7 linked regions of the Homo sapiens genome follow. The gene in region 1 interacts genetically with each later gene. Each region holds a gene or a part of one and is shown in the gene's direction. Other genes may lie near its edges.

Region 1 (4,253 bases):
TTAATGAGTTTGCCCTGGAGCCCGATTCCTTCGGTTGGAGTGACCCCTGAGAGGCCTCCCTGGAACAGCAGGCCACCTAACTACTGTGTCACTCCTTGCAGCCCCATGCTGTTGGATCTTCTCATGTGTACATCTCAACCCTTCAGCAGAGAACCCCGCGGTGTGAAACTTGGTCGGTGTTCGGGACCAATCTTAGGGCTTACTCTAGTCCCACAAGTCATTGTTGGGAGCTCAGCATAATCTCTACAGACAGACACCCCTCACTCCTTAGCTAGACAGAGCAGGACCACTGGAGTCAGGTCTGGTGACAGTAAAATCCCACAAAAACAAAATGCTTCTAGACATGGCCAACACCCCTTTATTTCAAACAAAGTTGCAACGTGGCAGAGCATCAGAAGCATCCCTTTGGGTTTTCGTAGGAATCTGGTCTGTGTGCATGAGGCCCTTGTTTGGGCCTCCCCCACACCACATGTCTGTGTCTGGCCCCGCACCGGACCAGTACCCATAATGCTGCACACCACCTCTACTCTGAGAGTCTGAACTCACTGCAGACCTAACTGAATGTTGCAGCATTTACTTTTTTATTATTACTACACTGTTGAAAGTGATGCACATGCATCCTTCAAGAAGTCAAATAGTGCTGCAAGGTTAACATCAAAACACCACCATACCCCTCCTACTCTCCTTCACCCTTGCAGTAACCTCTGTGAATTCTTTCAGCAGTTTTTTCTGTTCACATTTATGTTTCCACATAATTCGCCTGTGCTGCTCTTTATTGAATTCCCAGTTTTTGACATTATCTACTGGCATGACTATAGAAACTAGAATTTAGCTCACGCACTGCCCCTACCTCTACCCCCACCAAGCTTAGGCATACTTTTCCTTCTCCCATTCTCCCAGTACAGTTCATCACAGTTTTGGTTAAATTCAGAGTTTACGTCATGACGTGTAAATACGGCTGACAGTTAAGCCACAGAGTGTACAGTGATTATTTTCTTTCTTCTATAACTTTAAGTTTGCCAGAGTTAGGGATTGCCTCATTGTTTTGTTCACTTGGTTTTCTAAATATATGTTCCTACTTCAGCCCCACGTTCTCAGCGGTCTCATAGTGGTGTGTTCAGACACATCAGAGGTTCTGTTTCATCTTTGTCTTGGAGACATGCCCCTGGGTCTCGTTTCTGTTAGTCTAAGGTTAGACCTCCAGGACTGACCTCCTAATTCTTTCCTCTTAGTGTCTCTGGCTTTATCCTTTTGTTCTACTTTCTCAGAAGTTTTATTTTTCACCTTTTCAACCCTTCTATCAAAATTTTCATTTCTGCTTCGTCTTTCTAACTTCAGGAGCCTTTTCTTGCTGTCCGAATGCCCTGCTTTCCACAGCGTGCTCATCTTGTTTCCTAGGAGGCCGTATCTGCTCTCAACTGTCTGATGATTCTGTTTGTTTTCTTTCTTCTCCCTTCATTATCTGACTCCTCCTCTTTTCCTGTCTTTGTTTTGGTTTTGTTCTCATGTTAAAGAGGCTTTTCACATGTAATCTGATGATGCTTGGCTGTCTGTTGAAGGAATGAGAGACTCTGAAAGCTGTTTGTGCATGGAAGGTCCTTGTTGTCCACTGGGCTGCATTGTGGGTGATAAGGCAGACTTTTTCAGCGGGACCCCCAACTGTCAGAATCTGTAAGCCATTTTGGGGGAAGCAGGTGGTGTTCCTGAAGAGGAATCCTCTACTCTCCTCCTGCCTGACGGGTCTAGGCCTGGCCGGCTGCCTTTGGGGATCTGGAAGGGGAAGGAGCTGGGGTTGCTCATCACTTAGTGTGATGTTCACTTGTCCCCCCGTTTTCAGAATCGCAGCTCAGCCCTGTCCTCTACCGTGCAAACCACTGCAGGAAGATGGCCCTTTCTTCTGCCTGCATGGGGACGGAGATGGATTTGGGGATCTTTCCAGTGCTTCCGCCCACTGGTTTCAGCTTTCCCCCTCTCCTTGGTTAACGCTCACCTGTGACCTTTCTACCCTCAAATTTTTGACTTTTTTTACTGGTCTGCTGACCTCACTTCTCCCATTCTTTTTCCCCTTATGGGTTTATGCTTTTTTTTTTAATTCCTCTGCAGTCATGGTAGTGGGGTTTTAGGAGCTTTTGATTAAAACACGTTTCTGCTGCCACGTCAAGGGTTTATTTTTGAGTGGCTTCCTGGGCTGTGGAAAATGTGTCATCATTGTTAGTACTTACTCAGCATCCTGGCCTATCATGGTCATAGCCAAAGAGCAGACTTACTGGGAAATTCAACTCCCTGTCTTCCCCCATCTAGTTCACTGGTGGTGAGAATCCTTCTCTCTTCCCAGCCATGACTGCCCCATCTCCCCTCGCCAGAGCCTGTCCAGCCGGTCAACTTTAAAAATGCAGTGCTAGGCAGGCCTCCTAGGCTGAAAGCATGTTTTGTTCCAGCAGAACAAAGATACTTATGAGCCTTTCTGCAAGGTCCCTGTGATCACCTCATCCAAGGAAGAACAAAAACTTATAGCGACTTCAAATAAGGTATGTTGGAGGCACCCTTGTGGAATTTCTTTTGCTACCAGAAATGATGGAGGTTCTTCTGAATAACTTTTGAAATAAAAACATGTATAATTGCCTGAGTGAGGCCTGATAATGGGTTCACAGTGGGAAGCTACAGGTCATCTTTTGTGCCCCTGCTATTGGGTCATGTGGTCCCCCTCTCCAGCCAGCAAGCTATGCTTGTCTGCCTCTTCTGATGCAGGGCAGGGCCCCAGCCCTATGGGAAGCTAGTAGTTCATTGCATCTGCCTGCCAAGTAACTCTCTTCTTCTTCTTTTAAAACAACCCACAGCCAGCCGTGAAGTTGCTCTACAACAGAAGTAACAACAAATACTCATATACCAGGTAAGGCGTCAGCCGGGAAAGACAGCTCCATTTACTAGGAAAACCTCCACTCACACCAGCCAGGCCCAGCTCTTCTTCGTACCTTCAGATGAGGATGACCCCTCTGTACCTCTCTGCCTGGATAGATAAGTAGACAGATGGATACAGGGGTATAACTCTGAGCTATAATTCACACATATCATAAAAGTCATCTTTCTAGAGTGTACAGTTATTATTATATTCACAATATGTGGTTTTTATATATTCACAAGTTGTGAGGCCATAACGACTATCTAATTTTAGAACTTTTTCACTGCCTGAAAAGAAACCCTCTATTCGTTAGCAGTCACTCCCCATTTTCCCTCAACCATTGCTTCCCCAACCCCACAGCCCTAGGTAACCACTAATCTGTTTTCTGTCTTGATGAATTTGCCTGTTCTGGACATTTTTATGTGAATGGAATTGCATAATATATGGCCTTTTGTGACCAGATTCCTTCATTCAGCATAATGAGATTACCTAAGAGGTTTTCAAGGTTTATCCATGTTGTAGCATGAATCAATACTTCATTCCTTTTTATGGCAGAATAATATTCCACAGTGTAGACCACATTTTCTTTACCCATTCATCAGTTGATGGACATTTGGGTTGTTTGCACTTTTTGGCTATTGTGTGTAATGCTGTTATGAACATTCATGCAAAGTCTCTATGTGGACTTACGTTTTCATTTCTCTGGGAACAGAATTGCTGGGTCATGTGGTAATTCTATGTTTAATCATTCGAGGACCTGCCAAACTGTTTTCTAAAGTGGCTGCACCATTTTACATTCCCACCAGCAATATATGCAGGTTTCTAGAATGCCATTTGGCCCTTGAAAACATGTGGCTCTAACTCAGGAACTTGAGGGATGCAGGGAGGATTTAATCAGGTTACTCAAGATCTTTAAAAAGACCTAGGATATAGAGTCTCCCTTGGGCAGTGCCATTCTGCTCCTCTTGGGGCTCGGTGAGGTGCTCTCCTCCACCTGGTGCCTGTGCCCAGAGGCTGTCACTCAAGCACAATGGTTAGGAGCACTCAGGCTTAGGGGCCAGGGCTGTCTTTTGGGGGGCGTGTCTGCCATTTATTAGGTTCAGCCTTGAGCAATTACCTAATTTCTCTGATCCTCACTTTCCTTCTTGAGTGATGGAGATTGGAGTGCCTTTGTCATGGGATTATTGTGAGGTTGAAATGAGGTAGTGGAGAAAGTGGGCTCAGTAGGGCCCTGCGTGTAGAAGGGCCCAGCAAATGATGGCAGTTTTTACCAGCTTGTGGTCACCGTATCAAATGCTCTTTTGCAGCAATTCTGACGACAATATGTTGAAAAACATTGAACTGTTTGATAAGC
Region 2 (4,253 bases), on another chromosome or scaffold:
ATTGAATCTATAAATTACCTTGGGCAGTATGGCCATTTTCACGATATTGATTCTTCCTACCCATGAGCATGGAATGTTCTTCCATTTGTTTGTATCCTCTTTAAGTTCATTGAGCAGTGGTTTGTAGTTGTCCTTGAAGAGGTCCTTCACATCCCTTGTAAGTTGGATTCCTAGGTATTTTATTCTCTTTGAAGCAATTGTGAATGGGAGTTCACTCATGATTTGGCTCTCTTTTTGTCTGTTATTGGTGTATAAGAATGCTTGTGATTTTTGTACATTGATTTTGTGTCCTGAGACTTTTTGCTGAAGTTGCTTATCAGTTTAAGGAGATTTTGGGCTGAGACAATGGGGTTTTCTAGATATACAATCATGTCATCTGCAAACAGAGACAATTTGACTTCCTCTTTTCCTAATTGAATACCCTTTATTTCCTTCTCCTGCCTGATTGCCCTGGCCAGAACTTCCAACACTATGTTGAATAGGAGTGGTAAGAGAGGGCATCCCTGTCTTGTGCCAGTTTTCAAAGGGAATGCTTCCAGGTTTTGCCCATTCAGTATGATATTGGCTGTGGGTTTGTCATAGATAGCTCTTATTATTTTGAGATACGTCCCATCAATACCTAACTTATTGAGAGTTTTTAGCATGAAGAGTTGTTGAATTTTGTCAAAGGCCTTTTCTGCATCTATTGAGATAATCATGTGGTTTTTGTCTTTGGTTCTGTTTATATGCTGGATTACATTTATTGATTTGCGTATATTGAACCAGCCTTGCATCCCAGGGATGAAGCCCACTTGATCATGGTGGATAATAAGCTTTTTGATGTGCTGCTGGATTCGGTTTGCCAGTATTTTATTGAGGATTTTTGCATCAATGTTCATCAAGGATATTGGTCTAAAATTCTCCTTTTTGGTTGTGTCTCTGCCCGAAGCCCAGGTTTTTAAAGTAAACTATATGCCAATGTGGGCTTTGAGAAGACAGCTTTCTGGGTCATGGTACGGAAATGAGATACACTTAGTTTCTGCTTTGTCAAGGGATCCAGTATTTAAGAATATTTTGGGCTGCTCTCCCTCCCTCATTTTCTACCTTTTTAAGGACTGGATGGTCTTTCCTTGATTATCAGATTCAATTTTTCAAGGTTGGTAAAACTGTCTGGATCTAAGTATTACTTTCTTTCAGTTTTACAACAGTTAATGATTTTGTCAAACACCCCAGGTGGTGATTACTCATGTGTTTATTGGTTTGTTGTGATTTTATTGTGAAAGCATGACTATGTAAAACATCCTAGAATCTTGGTAGAAAAATTTTACTCAAGAAAGGAAACAAAGACACTTTTAGGAAATGCGAACTGCTAGTTTTCTCAGGGTTTCCAGCATTCCCAAAGAATAGTGAGCATTTCATGTAGCTTTTTTTGTGTTTCTCTTCTGAAGTAAAGTAGACTTGACGTAATATATTGTTTTATAAATAAAAAGTTACTTTTTAATCAAACACACTATAGATCATAAAAGTAGCCATTTAAGAAATATGTAAAGCTTTTTGGGTGTAATCTTTTGTGCATTCTAGAGGAAAATCTTGTTCTGCTCTGTTAAATGCTTAGGTATTAGAAATCTTTTTAAACACTTTGGGTACTTTTCTGGCACTGCAAGGATAGTGGATATGATTACCATGTTCTTATACCTGGCTAATTTTCTGTTTTTTTTTGAATTCAGTATATTTAAAGTTGGAGTTCGTTGCTAAAGATGGCAGACCCAGATGTCCTCACTGAAGTTCCAGCAGCATTGAAGCGGTTAGCCAAGTATGTGATCCGGGGATTTTATGGCATTGAGCATGCCTTGGCCTTGGACATCTTGATCAGGAACTCCTGTGTGAAAGAGGAGGATATGCTGGAGCTGCTCAAGTTTGATCGGAAGCAACTTCGATCAGTTTTGAATAATTTAAAGGGAGACAAGTTTATCAAATGCAGAATGAGGGTAGAGACTGCTGCAGACGGGAAAACCACTCGCCATAACTACTACTTCATCAATTATCGTACTCTTGTTAATGTGGTAAAATATAAACTGGACCACATGAGAAGAAGAATTGAGACCGATGAGAGAGATTCGACCAACCGGGCTTCCTTCAAATGTCCTGTCTGTAGTAGTACTTTCACAGACTTAGAAGCTAATCAGCTCTTTGATCCTATGACAGGTGAGGTTTATCCAGTTTGTGAATCTTTAAAATAAAGTGTGTATTACCTTTTTTCTTAAATTGATTCATCTAATTTTTAAACCATCATATATATTATTATAAAAGTGAATGGATCAGTGTAAATCACAGCATACAGTCAGTCTTACTGTCCTGTTTGGCTGTCGCACTACTTTGAGAAGCCTTTGCAAAGCGTTTCTCCTTTACAAGGGAGTTTCTCACTTATGGCCCTCCTGCCTCTGCCCACCCCACCTTGTTTACAACTGCAGCCTAATCTGAAGGGTTGATTTCTCTACCACTTTGAGGCTGTTCTAATTTTATTTTTGACCTCTAGACAGTTGCAATACAGTGTATTTAAATGCTTTGTTAGTGGAAGTAGAAAGTGGTATCAGGAGTATATAACTAGGGCATATAATCTGGATTTGGGGAAGGCCTCTGGAAGAAGTTAACATTTGAGACCTAAAAGATAGTAAGAGTTAGCTAGATGAAATAAGAGGGGAATTCTTTCCAAGATAAGACATTTAGTGTCCTTTAGATACACATTATTGTTGGAAGAAAATTGTCAACAAGATATATAATTGGCCTGATTTGATTGAATAGTTTTAAGGATTTTTCATAACACAATTTAGAAAGCATGCATTATCTGAAAATACAATATGTCTAGCATAAACATGAGAAACTTTAAAGTTCTGAGTTATATAGTTATTTTATCTTGTTATCTGTTTACACAATAAAAAAGAGACTAGTTTTGCTAAATACTCGATCAATTTTGTCTTATTTTCTACAGGTAAAAATCTATAGAAGGACTCAGTGCTATTAAATTAGATTAAGTCCCTTTGTTATGGTTGAATTCAGGAGTATAGGCTACTTTTTAGTTCATAGATCTGCTTTTTTAAAAACTTCGTCTGAAAGTTTAAACTTTGACCCATGAAATATTTGGTTGTGCAAAATTACAGATTTCTGTGTATGTTTTATTTTCTAATTTTTATGTTATATATGGTACATTTTAAATAATTAAAAAAAATTTTTAAGTGGGAAATAACCCCAATATAAATTAAGATTATTGACAAAAAGAGCCAGAAGCAATCTGTGACCTTTTTTTCTTATTTACTGTGAGGCAATGATTTTGGATGAAAACTGATTTAAGGAATTCACAATTGTATTAAACATTTAATTTGTCTGAGCCGAGCTTTTTACCTTGAAAGGGCTCCACAAGGAGAGATCTTGATTATAAGAAAGTCTTAACCATCCTCGGTATGAGAATTGCTTGAGTGTTCTATAGAGGAAGGTTGTAGAATATATCTGGAGCTCTTCAAAATAGACTAGAAAAGTCTCATGATTCTTGCCATTCACTCTAACAGATTTCTTACAGGAGCTCTGGGTTCTTGGTTTTGTAATTCTCTACAGATGTTGGTTTTAACAGTGGAGGCTTCATCACTCTTGACCACAGTAGAAGGTGTTATCCAGTCCCTTAGAGTAATCTAAAATAACATGCTTCTACTACATTTATTTGTCATTTGAGTCATATTAATTTAATTAAACTTTCTAAAAGGAGATGATTCCACTACTTATATATCAGTATTTGGGAGACTGATCATGATACTCTTGAATTTCACCTGGATTCTGAATGAAACTAGTTGACTCAATAGATGGCCTGTGGAAGAGATGGCCTAACATTCCATCCAGTACAGTCAAGGTGACTTGAATCAAGGAGTTAGGGTAGAGGGCATGAAAGTATTTTATGAAATAAAGCTAAAACTGAAACAATTGTGTTGTGGCCAGTCTGAACAAAGACTATTTTTAATGTGAGGGCTATGGTCAGCATGAAGATGAAAAGAAGGGGTGCCTGAGAGCAAGAATAAGCCACTTAATCTTAATGTCACTCAGGGGAGGGTGCCCTGGTCAGCCAACACTAATGCTTAATTGGCAGTTATGTCCTACAGTAAAGCCTGAGGTATCATGATTAAAAATTTATAATCATTAGGGACCCTCATTCTGAGAACATACTTGCCTTTTTATTGTAACGTGGCTTTTCATTTAGATGCTCCTTTAAGGAGAAAATGTGCTGATTA
Region 3 (4,792 bases), on another chromosome or scaffold:
GAGACAGAGGCTGTAGTATGCCGAGATCGGGCCCCTGCATTCTAGCCTGGGCAACAGAGCGAGACTCCGTCTCAAAAAAAAAAAAAGAAAAAGAAAAAGAAGAAAAAAGAAATAGATGCTGTGGGTATTCAGATCTGTCAGAGTGCTAGCTCAGCCTAGCCCTTCAAGTAGCAGAATAAAGGAGGAAAGAGCATCCCAGGCCTTCCCATCCCCATTCAACTCCCTCAGTTAGAGTGGTCCTAAGATTGCGGTGGGGGGGTAGGGCTGTGTTGAAGAGGTTAAAAACAGAGATTAGTCAGATCCAATCCTGCTCCCACTCTATGGAGGAAACAAATTCGAATACATAGTCACAGCCCAGGCTCTGGGATTGAGAGACAGAGAGAGAGATTGGATTGGAGAGAGAGAGAGAGAGAGATGGGATTGGAGAGACAGAGAGATAGATGGGACTGGAGAGACAGAGAGAGGGGTTCTGTGGCTCTGGAAGCCTAGAGAACAGAGCCTGAAGACAGAGAGGAAAGGGAGTAAAGGGGAGGCATTTATGCAGAGATCTCAGAAGTGAATATGAAAGGCACCCCTAGCAGAACGCACAGCTTGGGCAAGGAGGCTTGCTGGCATGAAAACGCAAGAAGTGCTCAGGCAGCTGTAATTCTCCAGGACATCAGATAAAAGGTAAAAAACAGATGGGAGACGCGCCTAGACAGGGTATTGAATACCAGCCCGAGGGGCTTGGGTTTCATCCAAACAGCAAGGCAACTGAGCTCAACACAGTGAGACTCGGTCTCCACAAACATTTTTTTAAAAATTGGCCGGGCCTAGCGGCGCGCGCCGATAGTCCCAGCTATTTCTGCAGGCTGAGGCGAGAGGATCATTTGAGCTCGGGGAGGTCCAGGCGGCAGTGAGCCAAGATCCTGCCACTGCACTACAGTCTGGGCAACAGAGCGAGACCCTGTCTTTAAAAAAGTAAAAAAAAAAAAAAAAAAAAAAGAAAGAAAAAGAAAAAAGAGAGAAGGGCAAGTCGCTCCCTTCTCTGGGCCTTGGCATAAATCAAGCACAAATCAAAGTCTCACTCCCTCCTCCTGCCGCGCAACGGCGCGGAGAGCCAGCCAGCCAGCCAGCGGAACCACGGCCTGGTAACCCAAAACCTGCACACCCTCCAGCTCCCCACAGGACGTCACGTATTACCACCGACGCACGCGCAGAAGCCTTCCCGGGGACTCAAGAAAGGGCAGGCTTAGCCTCCTCCCCATGTCGCCCCTCATTGGCTAGAAACTACTGCTCGTCTCGGTCGTTGTTAGCAGCGACCAGGGCGGGTACAATCTTGGTCGCTAGGACACGGCTAACTTCCGCTTTCTTCCCCCTCTCCTAGGCTCAAACTAGTCAAATCTTGTTCACTCGACCAATGGCAAATCGGAAGTGGGCGGGACTTCACAAGTCCGGACCAAAGAAACGCGAGCTTAGCCCTGGGTAGCGCGGCCAATGGCCGTGGAGCAGCCCCTGTAAACTGGCTCGGGCGCCCCCACGCCCGCCCTTCCTTCTTCTCCCAGCATTGCCCCCCCCACGTTTCAGCACAGCGCTGGCCGCAGTCTGACAGGAAAGGGACGGAGCCAAGATGGCGGCGGCCGACGGCGACGACTCGCTGTACCCCATCGCGGTGCTCATAGACGAACTCCGCAATGAGGACGTTCAGGTCCGGAGGCTACGGGGGACTTGGGGAAGACGCGGAGGGGTACCTGGGGGCACGGGCGGCCCTCGCGGAGAAGACTCAGCGTTCGCTGGGAGTGGCGGAAGGGGGCGACGGCCAATCAGCGTGCGTCTCTTATCTCCCCGGTTGCCCGGACTCCTTGAGACGGCGCTCCCGATTGGGTGTCGGCCCAGTGGAGGGCGGGGGCCAGCGCTAGCCTCGAGGGTCCCGGGCCTGCCCTGTGCGCGCGGCGGTCCGCGGTCCTGGGAGGTTGTGGCCAGGGCTGGGGTCTGCGGACTGGGTCTGGGAGAGAGGAGGACTCCGTGATTGGCGGCGGCCTCTGAATGGCCTCTTGGGGATGTGGGGCGCGCATGACTTGCTCCAAGTAGGGGAGGGCCGCCGGGTGGGTCGGGACCTGGGAAGGTTTTTTTGTTTTCTGGGTTTCGACTGCTGGGCCAAGTGGGGACCGAGAGGCGAAGGCCTGCCATCCTAATTCCTGCTCTTCCTCCGCCTCTCATTTTGGTTTAGGTGTCCTAAGAGGACGGGGACGCAAAAACACCCCCCCACCAAAGGTGGGGACTAGCCAAGTTTAGGAGCGAATTAGGTTGTAGAAACCCGCCTCCCCATCTCCCCGGATCCTCCCATTGACCAGGATAGGGGTTGAGGGATTTGCTAAGCAGATGAACATTTATTTATTTCTTTTTTTTGAGACAGTCTCTGTGTCGCCCAGGCTGGGGCTGGGGAGCAGTGGCGCGATCTCGGCTCAGTGCAACCTCTGCATACCGGGTTCAAACCATCCTCGCCCCTCAGCTCCCTAATTAGCTGCGATTACCGGCGCGAGCCACCACGCCCGACTAATTTTTGTATTTTTAGCAGAGACGGGGTTTCACCATGTTGGCCAGGCTTGGTCGGGAACTCTTGACCTCAAGCGATCCACCCGCCTCGGCCTCCCAAAGTGTTGGAATTACAGGCGTGAGCCACCGCGCCCAGCCCGGATGAACATTCCTGGTTATGGGATGAGGTGACCCAAGGCTCTGAGCCGGGCTGGTGTGGGATTGAGAACAGTTAGAACTGCAAGTCCACCTCCCACCTGCTGTGTGACCTTGTGCAAATTACTTCACCGCTTTGGGTCTCTGTGTTCCATAAAATATGGGCTAATTGTAGTCCTGGTCTTGCTGGAGGGACTTGTGAGGGACTGAACGAATTATGACACAAATAAAAAGTAGAATGGTGTCAGGCCTGTTGTAAGGGCTCGATAAATATTAGCTGTAATTATTGGGAGTGGTGATTAAAGAGGTCCCATCCTCCCTTTAGGTCTGTTTTCCCATTTATAAAATTGGACAAGGTGCACTGGGTAACCTGCCAAACGTGGGTCTCGCCTCCTAGGTTCCTGGTATATCACTGTTTCTGGTGGCATACAGGTTGTGGTTGTATTCCCGGCCCTTCCACTTGTTACTGATTGACAAGGGCAAGTTAGTTAATCTCTCTAGGCCTGTTTCCTCTTCTCTTTAATGGGGTTAATTACCTAGTTCATAGGGCGGTTGTATGAATTCTTTTGTTCAGTAAATATATGCCATGTATGAGATATGATGCTGGGGATATAGTGGAGACACCAGTTGCTATACAGGATCCAGATGTGAAACAGGTCAGCAGAGCTGAATAGATGAGTGTTTGAAAAGTGATGGGAAGGAAACAAATAGGATGTAGTGGTAGCGAATCCATATTGAATTGGGCCTCTATTCTGTGCAGGGCGCTGTTCTAAGCACTGGTATATAGCAGGAACAAGACAGAAAAAACTCTAGGCCTTGGGGAGTTTATTTTGTAGTGAGGAGAGACAGACAATAAACAGAGTATACTGGGGATAAGCATTAGGGAGACAAATAAAAATAAGAGAGATGGGGTATATATAGGGCATGCAGTTTTAAAGTGTGGTCAGGGGAGGCCTTGTTGAGATCCTGTTTGAGAACACGCCTGAAAGCAGAGGGCACAGCAAGTACAAAGTGGGGTGGGGCAGATCCATTTTAAGAAGGCCAATCAGGCAAGGCCCCTCTGAGGATGCAGAGTTTGAGAAGAGATTGAAAGAAGGTGGGGGAGAGCCTCCCAGGAAGAGGGAACAGATATGTAATGGCCTTTTTTTTTTTTTCTTCTTTTTTTGAGACGGAGTCTTGTTGCTCTGTTTCCCAGGCTGGAGTGCACTGACGCGATCTTTGCTCACTGCAACCTCCACCTCCCGGGTTCAAGCAATTCTCCTGCCTCAGCCTCTTGAGTAGCTGGGACTACAGACGCAGGCCACCACGCCTGGCTGATTTTTGTGTGTGTGTTTTTAGAAGAGACTGGGTTTCCCGGTGTTGGCCAGGCTGGTCTCAGACTCCTGATCTCAGGTGATCCTCCTGCCTCGGCCTCCGAAAGTGCTGGAATTACAGGCGTGAGCCACTATGCCCGGCCAGTTTTTTGTTTTTTTTAACTCCAGGATCACTTCCTTCAGCTATCTATCCTCCCATCTTTTCATTCATCCATCCATCCACTAACCAGCAGACATTTGTAGGGAGATGTCTTTGTGCCAGGATCAGAGCTAGGCAGCTTACCGGTTTATTCTAAAGAATATTGCAAAGGATACAGATGAAGACACATGCAGGGTGAGGTGTGGGGGAAGTTGTGTGGAGCTTCCATGCCCTCCCTAGGCATTCCACCCCCCAGGAACCGCGAGGTGTTCATCTGTCTGGAAGCTCCTATGGCTGCTTTTGTGCTACAGCCCAGAGTTGCATGGTTGTAACAGAGATGGCCGCAAAGCTTCAAATATTTGCTGTCTAACCCTTTGCAGGGAAAAAATTGCTGACCTCTGACTTAAACCATCTGCGTAACAAATTATTGGGTGCTTGCTCTATGTTAGGTACAGTACAGAGGAATATCACTGACGATCTTACTGAATTCTCACAATCACTCTTTGAAGTAGGTCCTGTCCTTGTCCACATTTTCCAGATGAGGAAACTGAAGCACCATAAATAACATGGCCAAAGCTGTGCAGCTGAGAAATGAAGGAGCCAGGAAAGGAAGTAGGACCTAAGGGTGGAATAGAATCTGGGGTGGGACACACGGTTGCTGATTATATTC
Region 4 (3,116 bases), on another chromosome or scaffold:
GAGAATATAAAATTTTAAGAAGTTTAAAGTCCCTAGGTGGGCTTTAAGCCTAGCAGTGGCGATAATTGTCTTTTCTTAAAAAAATCTTCTTTCACAGTGTAATATACATAGTACAATAGTAGAAGCATTTTCAAAATCTAGAGATGGGAATGATTTGGCATAGGGAAAGGGGGTAATTGCAGAATTTAGGAAAGGCAAACAGGAGGTAATGACTTGAATAAGATTTTAAAGGATGAATAGGAATAGGGATGGAGGTTGGGGGACGGTGAGGTGGTTGGGTGTGATAGACTTTCCTTGAGTGCCTTCAGTGAGCTAGATACTGTTGTAGATACTGGGTTTATAGCAATAAACAGAAGTCCTTATGGAGCTTACATTCTAGGGAGAGGAGATGGATGATAAAATGTATTTATCTCTTATAGTAATAAGTGTTATGAAGAGAAATAAACCAGGATAGAAAGAAATTGATGAGTGAGTGTGGAAGTTGCTATTTTACTTTGGGTAGTTGAGAAAGACCACTTTGATCAGGTGACATAAGAGTAGAGATCTGCAGTGAGGGAAAGAGCCATGTAGATGTTCCGGAAGGAGAGGAACAGCATGTGCAAAGGCCCTTGGGTCATAGCCTGCTTGGCCTGTTCAAAGAATAGCCAAGGTTTATTGGCTAAAGAAGAGGGATGGTAGCAGATGCAGTCAGGAGTGGCATATTAAGGGCAGGACAGTTTGTGTAGGGCTCTTGTAAGTTAAGGTAAGGGCTTCAGACTTTACTATCGAGTCCTATAGAAGTCTATATACAGATTCATTTGATTGTTCCATACACTGTCTTGCCTGTAAATATTAATTTGGATGTTGATTTTTATTTAATATAAAAACAGAAAAGGGGTCAGGCGCGGTGGCTCACACTTGTAGTCCCAACACTTTGGGAGGCCGAGGCAGGCGGATCACTTGACGCCAGCAGTTTGAGACCAGCCTGGCCAACATGGTGAAACCCCATCTCTGCTAAAAATACAAAAATTAACCAGGCATGGTGGTGCCTGTAATCCCAGCTACTCGGGAGGCTGAGGCAGGAGAATCACTTGAACCTGGGAGGCGGAGGTTGCAGTGAGCCGAGATTGCGCCACTCCAGCCTGGACGACACAGTGAGACCCTGTCTCAAAAAAAAAAAAAAAAAAAAACAGAAGAGGTTAATAATTCTGGATGTGGAATTCTTTCAAATGCTTAATTTAGATTGACACATGCTACCTCTTTGATCACTTTTAGAGCAAATGTAAAAAGTAGAACTTTGAAAAGATCATTCTTTTCCTTTCCCATTTTTTGCTTCTATCTTCGCCTTAGCCTGCCTGCTCACTGCATAAGTTTATGATTATGGTAATGTTCTTATACAGATCCAAAGGTCAGAAATGAATTGGAAACTATTCCCATTTGAAAAATATCTGTTGTGGTATAAATGTGCTGTTTTCTTTCCTCTTCTCCCTGACTTTAGGGAACTGCTCGCAGAAAGAAGAAGGTGGTTCATAGAACAGCCACAGCAGATGACAAAAAACTTCAGTTCTCCTTAAAGAAGTTAGGGGTAAACAATATCTCTGGTATTGAAGAGGCAAGTATCAAATTTTGTTACTTTAAAAAACAAGATTTGGCTGGGAAAAGTTAACGTTAATGCATTAAATGGGTTGTTTTTTTTTTTTTTAACTTAGGGACTTCAAAGTCCCTAAGATGTGTTTCTACCATAAATTAATAAATATCAGGGAGCTCATTAAGTCTGAATGCTATTAGAATACATATTCCATTCCAGGCAAAATTTCACCTGTGCTTCACAGTGAAATACTAGTTAGCCAGACTTAGTTTAATAAAACATTTGTTTTTAAAGAGACTGGTCAGCATTGCTAATTTAAATTTTTCTTTTCTTAATAGGTGAATATGTTTACAAACCAAGGAACAGTGATCCACTTTAACAACCCTAAAGTTCAGGCATCTCTGGCAGCGAACACTTTCACCATTACAGGCCATGCTGAGACAAAGCAGCTGACAGAAATGCTACCCAGCATCTTAAACCAGCTTGGTGCGGATAGTCTGACTAGTTTAAGGAGACTGGCCGAAGCTCTGCCCAAACAATGTGAGTTTCCTAGTAATGGTTTTACCAGGGAATTACTCATTTAGCAGCTGATTTCTGATCTCAGGGCTCAGAATGGATATGAGTATTTTTAAGTTTGGAAATGCAAGCTTTAAAAATAACAGATTTGTAACTGATTTTAAGCAACTGTCCTTGCTCAAGTTTGCAGTAATTGATGTAGCGTGCCATGATTGTTACACTTGATTTTGTGGAATGTTTTCTACTTACTTGATTTGGATCAGATACTTTATTAACTAGAAATGATGAAAATGTTAATTTGGTGCTTTGCCAATAACTACTTGTAAGTTTGGAATTGAAAAAAAAATTAGTGTAAATTATGAAATTACTTCAGTTTCATCTATATAGTTCGTATTACCAGTAATCTTTTAAAAATGGCTTGCCAGTATTCTGGCATTTTTAATTACAGTGTGATAGGGATTTTATTCGGGGCAGAAAATAGTGTAGCTGAATATACATCTGAGGATGTGGCAGTGTTATGCTGTTTTCTGTGCTTAAAATTTTGAAGAATAGGAATGCAGGAGGAAGTCAGAGGCTTATATATGGCTCTTTAGTTACCCATGTTTTTCTAGGTATTGACTTAATCTGCCTCAATTTTCATTTTTATTATCACATTGAGTTGCAGGTTCTAAACTGTCAGGGCTTTCAGAGCTGAAATAGGCTTTTGAAGTATCCCACTGATGCCTGTATGGGCCTAGTACATAACTCTCCTGTGTACGTTCATATTCTTGTGTGATAAAGGAGAGTGGATGCTTACCACTCACAGACTCTTTAATTTTTTTACTTTAACTTTTTTCATTTCAGTAAGTGGTTGTTGAGCATCACCCTTATGCCACACACAGAGTAGTTGAGAAAATGGCATCTTCATTTGTCTCCCAAAATCTCACCATGATTTGGTATGTGGGTTTTACCTGCACTCTAAGAGTTCCCTACTGCCCTTATACTACCTCAGGGCCTATGGTGGCCCAGAGGGATTGAAAGGATGGGTATGGAA
Region 5 (4,253 bases), on another chromosome or scaffold:
AAAGAGTGATGTGTAATCTTTTACAGCTTTCCCTTTAAAAAAACCTATATTGATTGGAAGTAATAGAACTTAATTTAATTTAATATCATTTTGCTGTAGACAGAATTTGTGGAAGGGGAAGAACACGATCACAGAATAACAAGTCGAATTAACCTAATAGATCTGGCAGGCAGTGAGCGCTGCTCTACGGCTCACACTAATGGAGATCGACTAAAGGTAAATGGAATGCTTTTTCTCCTTTTGATGAAATTTATTCCTGAGGTCATTATTTTAAGGAGAATACAAACTGAATACACTTAACCTCCCCAAATATATCTTTATCTGCAGTTTATAGACTGCATTGCTGTGGTTGAAAAAGAGATACGTACTTTTTGGTTATGATTAATTTTTAAAGAAAATACGTTTGAGTCATAAGAAAGTTGGTAGTTTATAGAAAAAAGTATTTATAGACAGGCATTGTGGCATGTGTCTGTAGTCCCAGCTACTTGGTTCAGGTGGGAGGATTGCTTGAGCCTGGATGGTCGAGGCTACAGTGAGCCATGTTTATGCCACTGCACTCCAGCCTGGGCAACAGAGTGAGACTCTGTCTCAAAAAAAAAGAAAGTAAAAAAGTATTTACTCAGTAATTATATGAGGGGAGAAATATATTTTGTGAAATAAATTTCTTGCTGAGAAGTATTTTAAGTTAAAAATTTTTTTTTTCTTGCATGCAGGAAGGTGTGAGTATTAATAAGTCCTTGCTAACTTTGGGAAAAGTTATATCTGCACTTTCGGAACAAGCAAACCAAAGGAGTGTTTTTATTCCTTATCGTGAATCTGTTCTTACATGGCAAGTATCTTTTGAAGTATAAAGAATTGTATAAAATATAGTGAATACTATGGGGAAAAGAATGATAGACTGACTTCATTAACTTTGGGATGGAGAAAGGTGGTAAGCATTATGAATTCTAGAGCCAAACTACCTGGATTTGAATCTCAGCTCAGCATCTTATAAGCTCTGTGACTTTGGGCAAATTACTTAATATTCTAGCCCGTTTCCTCATCTGTAAAATAGGAATAAAATCAATACCTTTTAGGGGTAAGTGAGAATTAGATTATTAGTGTACAATTCTTAATACATAATATGTACTATATGAGTGTAAATAACTGTTCTTGTACTTAACTATTATTTGTGGCTGATGTTTGAACATATATGGTACTACCAAACATATTGCTAGTTGTATAAAGAGAAGTTGAATAATTTTGTTTGCTTACTACACAGTGACTAATACATGGGTGCTCAATAAATGTTTTCATTAGTGAATGTATATTTAATTTTCAATATGTTACATTCAGATTACATCTGTATGGATTTAATATTCAGTTGTGATAGGCATTAATATACAGTTACAATAAGGACTGCATCTTTACTTGAGGGTAATGTGTCTTTATAATTGGTTTATTACAATGTGATTGCCACCTTGAAACCTATAAGGGAAAATCTGATTTTTTTCATGTCTTATGAAAGTTAAAAATAGTGACATTCATTCTGCACTAATATATGTTTTAAGTCTCATACTCTTTTTCTCTAAAATAAAGATTTTGCTTTTAGTACAATATAGAATTTTTGTTTCAATGTTCATCATTTTCAACATTTATTGAGCACCTGCTTCAAAAGGTTGTGGTAGCACTGGAAATACAAAGATGACCAAGACACATAGTCCCTTCCCTATGGTAGCTCACAGTCATGAAATACTTGATGATCCACCACATTTTAGAATCTCTGCACAGATTATTGCCTCTTGAAACAATATAAAAAGTGTAAGAGAGAAAAAGTGTTTATGAGATCTAGAAATAGTTACAAATACCAGAAAAGTTTTAAATGGTATTTGAGTAGAGTATAATAATACTGTATTATATACCCTATTAGTTTGTTTTGTGCTTTCTAGATAATTACTGTTATTAAGTTGTTGTAGAAGCAAAGTCTTATGACTTTTTTTCTTGTAGGCTGTTAAAAGAAAGTCTGGGTGGAAATTCAAAAACTGCAATGATTGCTACGATTAGTCCCGCTGCCAGCAACATAGAAGAAACATTAAGCACACTTAGATATGCTAACCAAGCCCGTTTAATAGTCAACATTGCTAAAGTAAATGAAGATATGAACGCTAAGTTAATTAGAGGTGAATATTTTCTCAGAATTTAAAAATTGTTTTGCCACAGTTTAGTCCCAGATATTAGTTGCAGTCTTAAAATATGTAATTTATGAACATCAAAGGTGTTTTTCTATACCTATTTTAATAGATTCTAGTCATCAGCCTATAGTGATGGAGGATGATAGGTAGAAGGACAGATAATAAGTAATAAGGAGAAAAACAATTAGGAAAAGAACATAGAAAACAGAGTGTGAGTAAGGGGGAAACAGTAAGCATTAAACAATAAATTTACACAGTCATAGACGTGTGCAGCAAAATGCCAATAAAACTATTTACTATTTTTCTCTTATGACCTCTCTTCCATTGACGTTTTATGTACTAGCTCTGCTCATGCTTAGTTCATTGATCCAAAGGCAATTGGAGCTCGAGTTTCTAGTATAGGCTGAACTTCATTTATGCTAAATACTGCTTTCTATTTATCTCTAGGTAATCATCAATTTAGGATAGACTTTAATGCCTGCAAGAAATCTTGATTTGTACAGTTTTATCTTTGCTGATGTAGAACTATCATCTTTTCATGCCCCTTTGTCCTCTGGCCCTTTTTAGCAGCAGAAGGTGATAGACACTTCAGATGTATGAGCCAGAGAAGAATCTGATTTGTCTATCCTGGTCCATCCTTTCCCTTTTGGATCCCTTCTGTTTCACAAGTGGGACTGTTTTCATTAAAAATAAGTATTCTGGGCCGGGCATGGTGGCTCATGCCTATAATCCCAGCACTTTGAGAGGCTAACGCAGGCGGACTACTTAAGGTCAGGAGTTCGAGACCAGCCTGGCCAACATGGGGAAACCCTGTCTCTACTAAAAATACAAAAATTAGCCAGACACAGTGGTGGGCACCTGTAATCCTGGCTACTCGGGAAGCTGAGGCAGGAGAATTGCTTGAGCCCAGGAGGCGGAGGTTGCAATGAGCCGAGATCGTACCACTGCACTCTAGACAGTGAGACTCTGTCTAAATAAATAAATAAATAAATATTCTGAATTCCAGCTTGAAAAATCTTTGATCTTGGCTGTTCTGCCTAGTGAATAGCCATTCTTTTATTTCTTTACTTTTTAAATAAACTTTCACTTTAACAATTACCCTTTTGCCTCTCAAAAGTGTTCCACTTTGGTCAGTACATTATACAGCTTTCCTACTTATGAACAGGGAAAGTTCATTAATATGGGAGCATATTTCAGGTTAAGACTAAGTAAAGATTTATAGGTTATATAAAGTAGAGCTGATTTCTCCAATATTCTATTTTATTTAGTAATACTGTATTTAAAACTTCAAATGAAATAGAAGATTGGAGGATTATGCTTACTGTGGAAATTGTTATATATTAAATGTTATTATTAATGCATCTTTGTATAAATCTTCAGAATTGAAGGCAGAAATTGCAAAGCTAAAAGCTGCTCAGAGAAACAGTCGGAATATTGACCCTGAACGATACAGGCTCTGTCGGCAAGAAATAACATCCTTAAGAATGAAACTGCATCAACAGGAGAGAGACATGGCAGAAATGCAAAGGTAGAGTACAGTCAGTACTCTAAATGTTAAGTGTGTTGCTCTGGAATCATAGGAATGGCAGGGACCTCAAGAGGATACTGAGTATTTTTCCGACCTTCCTTATGAATAGAGCAGCCCACTCCCAGATTATCATATTTTAAATATTACTAGGTAGTTGCCTAATTTTCATTGATTGTCTCTTGACTCTCAATCTTATACATCTGGATGTTTTTAACTCTGTTATTTTCTTTGTCTTTGGAAAGAGTGTGGAAAGAAAAGTTTGAACAAGCTGAAAAAAGAAAACTTCAAGAAACAAAAGAGTTACAGGTATTATTTCAACTTTCTAAACTGATTAGAAAATAAAAGAAATATGCCAAGAAATAAATATTGCCAATATGCCAATGCATGTAAATTTAATGTTTCAAATACTTACTATATACTGACTCTGTACAAAGCAATACCGTAAGGAAAATTAATATAAAGAAATGTTAAGATCAAGACTGGTTGCTTAGAGCCAGCCCATAAACTAGTTGGAAAGTTAAAGTATGAATAAACCATCTTGTTATATTTACTTT
Region 6 (4,253 bases), about 16 Mb from region 1:
TAAAGAACTGTATATAGTTAGTATTTTCTCGAAAGCTTGTTAATACATGTTTGACAGTCAAAGCATGGACCCAAATAAGTAAATAGAGTATTAAAGTCTTTTTTCTCAGCCAACTGTGCTTTCTTTTTCCTTTTCCTGTCTGTAAACAGAGTTTATAGCTCTTATAAACAGCTCTTATAGGAAGCTTTCCATTTCTAAAGTAGACATGTATAGAAGGCAACAGTAGGTTTGCCTTTTTATATTAAACTATGTGAGCCAACTTTTTATTTTTATTTTTTATTTTAGATTCGGGCGTACATGTGCAGGTTTGTTACGTGGATGTATTACATATACTGAGGTTTGGGCTTCAACTGAACCCGTCACCCAAATAGTGAACATAGTACCCAATAGGTAGTTTTTCAACTCTTCCCTCCATCCCTCCATTCTGTTTTGAGTCCCCAGTGTTTATTGTTCCCATCTTTGTGTCCATATGTACCCAATGTTTACCTCCTACTTGTAAGTTAGAACATGTAGTATTTGGCTGTTTTTGCATTAATTCACTTAGGATAATGGCCTCCAGCTGCATCTGTGTTGCTGTAAAGGACATGATTTTATTTGTTTTAATGTCTGTGTAATAATCCATGGTATGCATATACACCACATATTCTTCCAGTCCACCATTGATGGGCTTGTTTCCATGTCTTCGCTATTGTGAATAGTGCTCTGATAAACATGCAAGTGCAGCTGACTTTTTAAATACAACTCTGCTTGACCTTGACCTTTGTCTCTTCTTTCTTATTTCCTATTTACCACCATTTGTAATTGAAAGTTTGCTTATTGAATTAGGGAGAAAAGAGCTATTTGAAGAATGGAGTATAAGTAAAGTAATAAATAGGCAATTTGTTATGCTTGAGACGAGGAAAATATTTTACTCAGTAAACACCTTTGTTGAATAGAATGCTCAAAAGTTTGCCAGATCCTACTCTATTTTATTTTATTTTATTTTTTGAGACTGGATCTTGCTCCCAGGCTGGAGTGCAGAGGCATGATCTTGGCACACTGCAACTTCTGCCTCCCAGGTTCAAGTGATTCTCCTGCCTCAGCCTCCCGAGTAGCTGGGATTATAGGCACCTACCACCAGGCCTGGTTAATATTTGTATTTTTAGTAGAGGTAAAGTTTCACCATGTTGGCCAGGCTGGTCTCGAACTCCCAACCTTAAATGATCCTCCTGCCTTGGCCTCCCGAAGTGCTGAGATTACAGGTGTGAGCCATTGCGCCTGGCCTAATTTTTGTATTTTTAGCAGGGGAGGGGTTTCACCATGTTGGCCAAAACTGGTCTCAAACTCCTGACCTCAAGTGATCTGCCCACCTCAGCCTCCGAGAGTGCTGGGATTATAGGCATGAGCCACCGCACCTGGCCACCAAATCCTGCTCTTATAGGAAGCTTTCCATCCCTGCTTCCTTGCTTGCCCCACTCTCCCATTTTTTAGGGCCCTAAACATAGAAACATTTATTACATTATATTCAAAGTAAAATCAACTTAGAATTCAGTAAATAGAACAGGACATTGCTTAAGAGACTTTGGATATAAACCAAAATAAGTCACAACAAAACTGCAATCAGCTTTTGATTATCTAGGAGCATTTTTGTTGTTGAGAATTGGGAGAAAGACCCTTACTCTTACTTCTTAGATTCCTCTTTGCCTTGCAGGAACCCAGCTCCTAGGCTAATGAGAAGTCACATCCAATCAGTTTTTACATAGACTATGTTTTGAAACAATTAGTCCTCACACAGGCCCATCAGAAAACCAGTTAATGTGTCCCTGAATAATTGAAAATTATTTATATATCTTTTTCCCCACTGGATTTCCCACTAAGTTTGTACTGGATCTAATTCATTTTGGTGTCCCTGGGGCCTCTCATTCATGATAGGAGATCTATCAGTGTTTGTTCAAGTAATCTGAATGGTTTAGAGTTAACTCTCAAAATATCTAGTTAACTAAGAATTAGGTTACCCTAGAAAATCATTCCATTATCAGTTATCCTAATACTCAGTGACCTAACTTCTTATATCCGAAAAGTCCCTTATACTGCAAAGTTCCTGTTGCTACTATTATTGAAAGTAAAGGGCTGGGCAGGGTGGCTCACACCTGTAATACCAGCACTTTGGCAGGCTGAAGCAGGCTCTGAAGTTTGAGACCAGGCTGGGCAACATAGGAAACCTCATTTCTACAAAAGTTACAAAAATTAGCTGGGCGAGGTGGTACACGCCTGTGGTCCCAGGAGGGAGCCAGCTTACTCAGGAGGCTGAGGTAGGAAGATTGCTTGAGCCCAGGAGTTCGAGGCTGTGATTGTGCCATTGTACTCCAGCCTGGGAGACAGAGTGAGACCCTGTCTCAAAAATAAAAAATTAAAATTAAAGAAAGTTTCATTACTGTTATTATTGATGTTTAATAAAAAAGGGAAGGACAGTAAGATTGGAGGCAAAGCGAAATCATGATTAAGGAAGAAAGTTCAGTGAGCAAAAATAAAAAGCCTTCCTTATATTCTAGAAGGAATATTTTAAAATTTCCCAAATGGTCAGTCAGCCCGGGAGTGTAGAACACTTCACAGTTTTCAAAGCATGTTAAGCCATTTGATCCTTATAACAGCTTTGATTTTGGTAGCCCATGTAGTATTATCCTCTTTATGAAGGTAAAGAAACTTGAGTTCTGTGGCCCTCATAAGTTCACCCAGGGTCACATATTTGGTAAACAAAAACTGTGACCAAAATCTGGATCTCCCACCTTACTTTGTCCTGTATACTTTCTACTGTACTTCCTTTTCTGTAGCAAGGTAAAATACTGAGCATTTGAAGATGGGACAACTTTTAGCTTTCATAGCTCTTTCAAAATGCAATTAAATATATATATGTAACAAGAATAACTCATAAATTACAGAAATTATTGTTAATTGAAATTCTTTTGGCACATTGAGCTTAATTGCTGTTAACTTTGGCATTGGTCCTAATTATATATTTAGAGCTTCTGCTACTTCTATATCCAGAATTACTTCCATTGGTAAAATATCAGGTAATGAATGTTTCCTTATTTTTTTTTCAAGGTGAAGTCTCACTCTGTTGCCCAGGCTGGAGTGCAGTGGTGCAGTCTTGGCCCACTGCAGCTTCGACCTCCCTGGGCTCAGGTGATCCTGCTATCTCAGTCTCCCAAGTAAGCAAGACTACAGATGTGTACTACCATGTCTGGTTATTTATTTATTTATTTATTTTTGAGATGGAGTTTCACTCTTGTTGCCCAGGCTGGAGTGCAATGGCATGATCTTGGCCCACTGCAACCTCCGCCTCCCAGATTCAAGTGATTTTCCTGCCTCAGCCTCCCAAGTAGCTGGGATTATAGGCATGTACCACCATGCCCGGCTAATTTTGTATTTTTAGTAGAGATGGGGTTCCACCATGTTGATCAGGCTGGTCTCGATCTCCTGACCTCAGGTGATCTACCCACCTCAGCCTCCCAAAGTGCTGGGATTACAGACGTGAGCCACTACGCTTGGCCTATGTTTTGTATTTCTTTGTAGAGATGGAGTTTTGCCATGTTGCCCAGGCTGGTCTTGAACTCCTGGGTTCAAGTGATCCACCTGCCTCAGCCTCCCAAAGTTCTGGTATTACAGGCGTGAGCCACCATGCCCAGTCCTTATGAATTTTTCAAACATCAGTTATGCAGAAACATTTGAGAGGCAGTTCGGCAATCACTTTTTAATGTGTAGGCACTATAGGGGACACAGTAATGAACAAGGTACAGTTCCTGGCCTTAAGGAACTTATTTAGACTTGTAGGTGAAACAGACATCTAGCAACACTAAGAATGCCCAGAATATGAGGCAGAATGTGATAAGTGTGTCATGAGGGCACAAACAAATGTCTGTGTAAACACAGAGTAGAAATTTTACTGAGTTTCTTGTTAACTAAAATACTGTTGTCTTGAGTTTTCTTGTCTGCATATTTCAGAACACTTAATTCTGTCACCCAGTCATGTTTCTTTCAGTGAAAATGTATATCATCTAGTTGGTTTATATTCAGAGATACAAAATTGTTTTTTTTTAATTTATATTTTTTATTATTAATTTTTTTTTAATAGAGATGGGGTCTCACTATATGACCCAACTATGTTGCCCAGGCTGGTCTTGAACTGCTGGATCAAGCGATCCTGCTGCCTTGGCCTCGCAAAGCGCTGAGATTACAGGAGTGAGCCACCACACCCCACCAGTTTTAATTTTTTT
Region 7 (3,783 bases), on another chromosome or scaffold:
GGAGCCATTGTGATTAATGCTGGGAAAAGAACACTAAAATGTGCTCGTAGACAAGTTGTTTTTATCTCTGAGCTTTTATTTTTATCTGTAAATACAACAAATAATATTCCAGTCCTAAAATGGATACTTCATAGGCAAAGTTAGAATAAGTAAATAACATTGTTATGAGTTCATCATATAAAGCTCTTAGAAAAATGCTTAGCACATAGTAGATGCTCAATAAATATTAGCTTTTATTAATATTATTATTACCATATATAATGTGGTTTGGAAAGAACTTACTAAGAGTAGCAGCCTTAGAGGGACCAAGACAAATTCACTGCCCTTCTCTAATTAGTAGAGGACTCTGTCACCAGATACAAATCGAAATTTTTCTTTTTGTTAAAGAGTTAAGGCAATTGTACTGAATTTTTCTCAATTTTTAGTTTCCTCACATGACTTAGATTTTGATGCTGTACAAAATAAATAATTTTCATTTAAATTTGACAAATGCTTTGGAGATTACTGAAATTTTTTCAAGTATCCTACATACATAGTTGCAAAATAAAGGCAGTTTTTTAAAATGTCACATGCTATTTTTATTGAAATCTATCTGTACGTAACTACATGTTCTTTTTCAAGGTTATGGAATTAGAATCAAAGCTAAATGAAGCAAAAGAAGAATTTACGTCAGGTGGACCTCTTGGTCAGAAACGAGACCCAAAAGAATGGATTCCCCGTCCGCCAGAAAAATATGCATTGAGTGGTCACAGGAGTCCAGTCACTCGAGTCATTTTCCATCCTGTGTTCAGTGTTATGGTCTCTGCTTCAGAGGATGCTACAATTAAGGTAATTTTTTGTTAAAAGCAGACTTAACGGGAGGCTGAAGCAGGAGAATGGCATGAACCCGGGAGGCGGAGTTTGCAGTGAGCCGAGATTGCACCACTGCACTCCAGCCTGGGCGACAGAGCCACACTCTGTCTCAAAAAAAAAAAGCAGACTTAATAGGGTGAAGAAAATTAAAAGATCCTGAAAATGAGGGCCTATGAAGAGGGACAGGAGGTACTCTGAAACGTGTGATTTGGTTCTAAATCTTAAAAGACAGAATTGGAATAAAATATCATTGTGGCTCCTGAGAGGCATGCTGCCAGGTAAGTTTGATGGTGAATTTGAGAAAGTCGGGTGTCACTAACTGAGTTGATGTCAGTACATCACCTTGTGCTTGAACAATTTTTGTTCTTGGAGAATGAAAAGTGTGTGTCTTACCTTTAAACGGAGGTTATGTGTGAAATACTGATTGACAAAACTAGTAATTGATAGGGTGAATCTATACTGCAAAAGAATTCAGTAGAGGATTCATTTAAATTGGGCTTTCCTTGATGTATTTAAAATTGGCTTTCCAGGAGTGTGGGAATATACAAGCTTTTCATTTTATAAATTACGTATTTCATTAAAAAATTTTTTTCACAGTAAAAATATTATTACCTTTTAATGTTGTGCTTTTTTAATTAGGAAAAGAGTTGTTTTTAAGTTGCCTTTGTTCCGGACACAATAAAATGACCGTTGTATAAACCACCTACAGAAAGATAAGATAGTTGCAATATAGGTAGATTTAGGTAGATGCCTCTATCCTAAGGGTTATTTCAAAGTAAGTTACAGATATTAAGTTTCATTTACAAAAGTATAACCAATCGGCCGGGCACGGTGGCTCACGCCTGTAATCCCAGCACTTTGGGAGGCCGAGGCGGGTGGATTGCCTGAGCTCAGGAGTTCAAGACCAGCCTGAGCAACACGGAGAAACCCCATCTCTACTAAAATACAAAAAAATTAGCTGGGCATGGCAGCGTGCGCCTGTAGTCCCAGCTACTTGGAAGGCTGAGGCAGGAAATTCGCTTGAACCCAGGAGACAGGTTGCAGTTAGCCAAGATCGCTCCACTGCACTCCAGCCTGGGCGACAGAGCGAGACTGTCTCAAAAAGGTAGTTACAACTAACCAAATAGTAACGACGGTTTGGCCTTACTACTAACAGCAGAAGAAATAAACACTGAAATTATGGGCCGGGTGTGGTAGCTCATGCCTATAGTCCTAGGACTTTGGGAGGCCAAGGTGGGAGGACTGCTTGAGCTCAGGAGTTAGAGAGCAGCCTGGGCAACATAGCAAGACCTCGTCTCTACTTAAAATTAGCCAGGTATGGTGGTGCATGCCTGTAGTCCTAGCTACTCAGGAGGCTGAGATGGGAGGATCACATGAGCCTGGGAGTTGGAGGCTGCAGTGAGCTATGATTGAGCCAGTGTACTCCAGCCTGGGCGAAGAGTGAGACCCTGTCTTAAAAACAAAAAAATTGGACTGGGCACGGTAGCTCATGCCTGTAATCCCAGCACTTTGGGAGGCCAAGGTGGGTGGATCATGAGGTCAGGAGATCGAGACCATCCTGGCTAACATGGTGAAACCCCGTCTCTACTAAAAAATACAAAAAATTAGCCGGGAGTGATGGCGGGCTCCTGTAGTCCCAGCTACTCGGGAGGCTGAGTCAGGAGAATGGCGTGAACCCGGGAGGCGGAGCTTGCAGTGAGCCAAGATCGCGCCACTGCACTCCAGCCTGGGCGACAAGAGTGAGACACACATACATATATATGTGTGTCAAATTGTCAAGGTATTTTACCTATTAAATAAGAATTCCCAGTGATGATAAGATTTTGATAAAGTAGTCATTCTCATTACATATGATACAGTCTTACGGGATATCAATTTAATAGAGTATATGAAGGCTTTAAAAGTTTATACTTTTTGACCCACTAATTGTTTCTCCCCATTACTGTCTGACCTAGGTATTATAAAATGAGGACAGAATTTTTTTATATTAAAAAATGTTCACTATAATGTTTTCTATAATAGTGATTTAGCCAGCAATTAGAATTTTTTTTTTTTTTTTGAGATGGAGTTTCACTCTTGTTACCCAGGCTGGAGTGCAGTGGTATGATCTTGGCTCACTGCAGCCTCCGCCTCCCAGGTTCAAGCAATTCTGCCTCAGCCTCCCGAGTAGCCGGGAGTACAGGCGCCCACCACTGTGCCTGGCTAATTTTTTGTGTTTTTTAGTAGAGACGGGGTTTCACCATATTAGCCAGGATAGTCTCGAACTGACCTCGTGGTCCGCCCGCCTTGGCCTTCCTAAGTGCTGGGATTACAGGCGTGAGCCACTGCGCCCGGCCATATTTCATTTTTTAACTCAAAATGACATATGCTCTTGTTCATTTGCTATTCGTGAACAGTTAACATCTTCTGAAATCTTTCCTTGGCCCTTTAGATGTCTGAGTTCTGATGGTCTAGTAGGATCGAGTATTCATCCATTGTTCCTCAAATATTCTACATACAAATGCCTGCTATAGCCCTCTGAAGCTCCTTCCCTTCCCCTTCCCTTTCCCCTTTCTTTCCCTTTCCTTTCCATCTCTTTCTCTTTCTTTCCTCTTATTTCTTCCCCTTAAGTTTCCTTATTTACATGTCATTCCTGCTCTGAGACAGGGAGCGGACTATGTCTTGTGACTTTATATACCTTATCACTATTACAGTTGGTTATGTGATAGAAACCTTATAAATGTGGTTCTAGAGATAGATTTTAATAATTGCAACATTAGTTTTCCCTGTAGAAAAAAAGACCAATTTATACATGAGATACAATATTTCTAAAATAGTTATCCTTTGTTACTTGTTCGGTTAGTTACTCAGTAAGGTGCCAGACTGGCCTGCTGAGTGCAAATGTGAAACAAGAAAGGAGTGATGGAGTTGGTGTTAACCAATTTTCTGTTC

What was found.
Region 2: changes in KCTD10 (region 1) and GTF2E1 together harm fitness more than expected from each alone (negative genetic interaction), as found in Homo sapiens cells (one large-scale study listed by BioGRID).
Region 3: changes in KCTD10 (region 1) and PPP2R1A together harm fitness more than expected from each alone (negative genetic interaction), as found in Homo sapiens cells (one large-scale study listed by BioGRID).
Region 4: changes in KCTD10 (region 1) and BTF3 together harm fitness more than expected from each alone (negative genetic interaction), as found in Homo sapiens cells (one large-scale study listed by BioGRID).
Region 5: changes in KCTD10 (region 1) and KIF14 together harm fitness more than expected from each alone (negative genetic interaction), as found in Homo sapiens cells (one large-scale study listed by BioGRID).
Region 6: changes in KCTD10 (region 1) and MRPL42 together harm fitness more than expected from each alone (negative genetic interaction), as found in Homo sapiens cells (one large-scale study listed by BioGRID).
Region 7: changes in KCTD10 (region 1) and PAFAH1B1 together harm fitness more than expected from each alone (negative genetic interaction), as found in Homo sapiens cells (one large-scale study listed by BioGRID).

What each region holds. Positions count from the first base shown.
Region 1 is NC_000012.12:109,456,267-109,460,519, reverse strand, and holds part of KCTD10 (BTB/POZ domain-containing adapter for CUL3-mediated RhoA degradation protein 3), read left to right. Parts: intron 1-2,438; coding exon of another isoform or gene 2,439-2,441; coding exon 2,442-2,528; intron 2,529-2,837; coding exon 2,838-2,890; intron 2,891-4,206; coding exon 4,207-4,253. UniProt on the Homo sapiens protein: Substrate-specific adapter of a BCR (BTB-CUL3-RBX1) E3 ubiquitin-protein ligase complex. The BCR(BACURD3) E3 ubiquitin ligase complex mediates the ubiquitination of target proteins, leading to their degradation by the proteasome.
Region 2 is NC_000003.12:120,748,817-120,753,069, forward strand, and holds part of GTF2E1 (general transcription factor IIE subunit 1), read left to right. Parts: intron 1-1,706; 5' UTR 1,707-1,736; coding exon 1,737-2,184; intron 2,185-4,253.
Region 3 is NC_000019.10:52,188,488-52,193,279, forward strand, and holds the start of PPP2R1A (serine/threonine-protein phosphatase 2A 65 kDa regulatory subunit A alpha isoform), read left to right. Parts: upstream 1-1,564; 5' UTR 1,565-1,609; coding exon 1,610-1,687; intron 1,688-4,792. UniProt on the Homo sapiens protein: The PR65 subunit of protein phosphatase 2A serves as a scaffolding molecule to coordinate the assembly of the catalytic subunit and a variable regulatory B subunit.
Region 4 is NC_000005.10:73,501,011-73,504,126, forward strand, and holds part of BTF3 (transcription factor BTF3), read left to right. Parts: intron 1-1,477; coding exon 1,478-1,591; intron 1,592-1,905; coding exon 1,906-2,107; intron 2,108-3,116. UniProt on the Homo sapiens protein: When associated with NACA, prevents inappropriate targeting of non-secretory polypeptides to the endoplasmic reticulum (ER).
Region 5 is NC_000001.11:200,599,802-200,604,054, reverse strand, and holds part of KIF14 (kinesin-like protein KIF14), read left to right. Parts: intron 1-99; coding exon 100-216; intron 217-713; coding exon 714-829; intron 830-1,986; coding exon 1,987-2,159; intron 2,160-3,551; coding exon 3,552-3,699; intron 3,700-3,941; coding exon 3,942-4,005; intron 4,006-4,253. UniProt on the Homo sapiens protein: Microtubule motor protein that binds to microtubules with high affinity through each tubulin heterodimer and has an ATPase activity. Plays a role in many processes like cell division, cytokinesis and also in cell proliferation and apoptosis.
Region 6 is NC_000012.12:93,470,201-93,474,453, forward strand, and holds part of MRPL42 (large ribosomal subunit protein mL42 precursor), read left to right. Parts: intron 1-285; exon of another isoform or gene 286-390; intron 391-4,253.
Region 7 is NC_000017.11:2,666,371-2,670,153, forward strand, and holds part of PAFAH1B1 (platelet-activating factor acetylhydrolase IB subunit beta), read left to right. Parts: intron 1-621; coding exon 622-828; intron 829-3,783. UniProt on the Homo sapiens protein: Regulatory subunit (beta subunit) of the cytosolic type I platelet-activating factor (PAF) acetylhydrolase (PAF-AH (I)), an enzyme that catalyzes the hydrolyze of the acetyl group at the sn-2 position of PAF and its analogs and participates in PAF inactivation.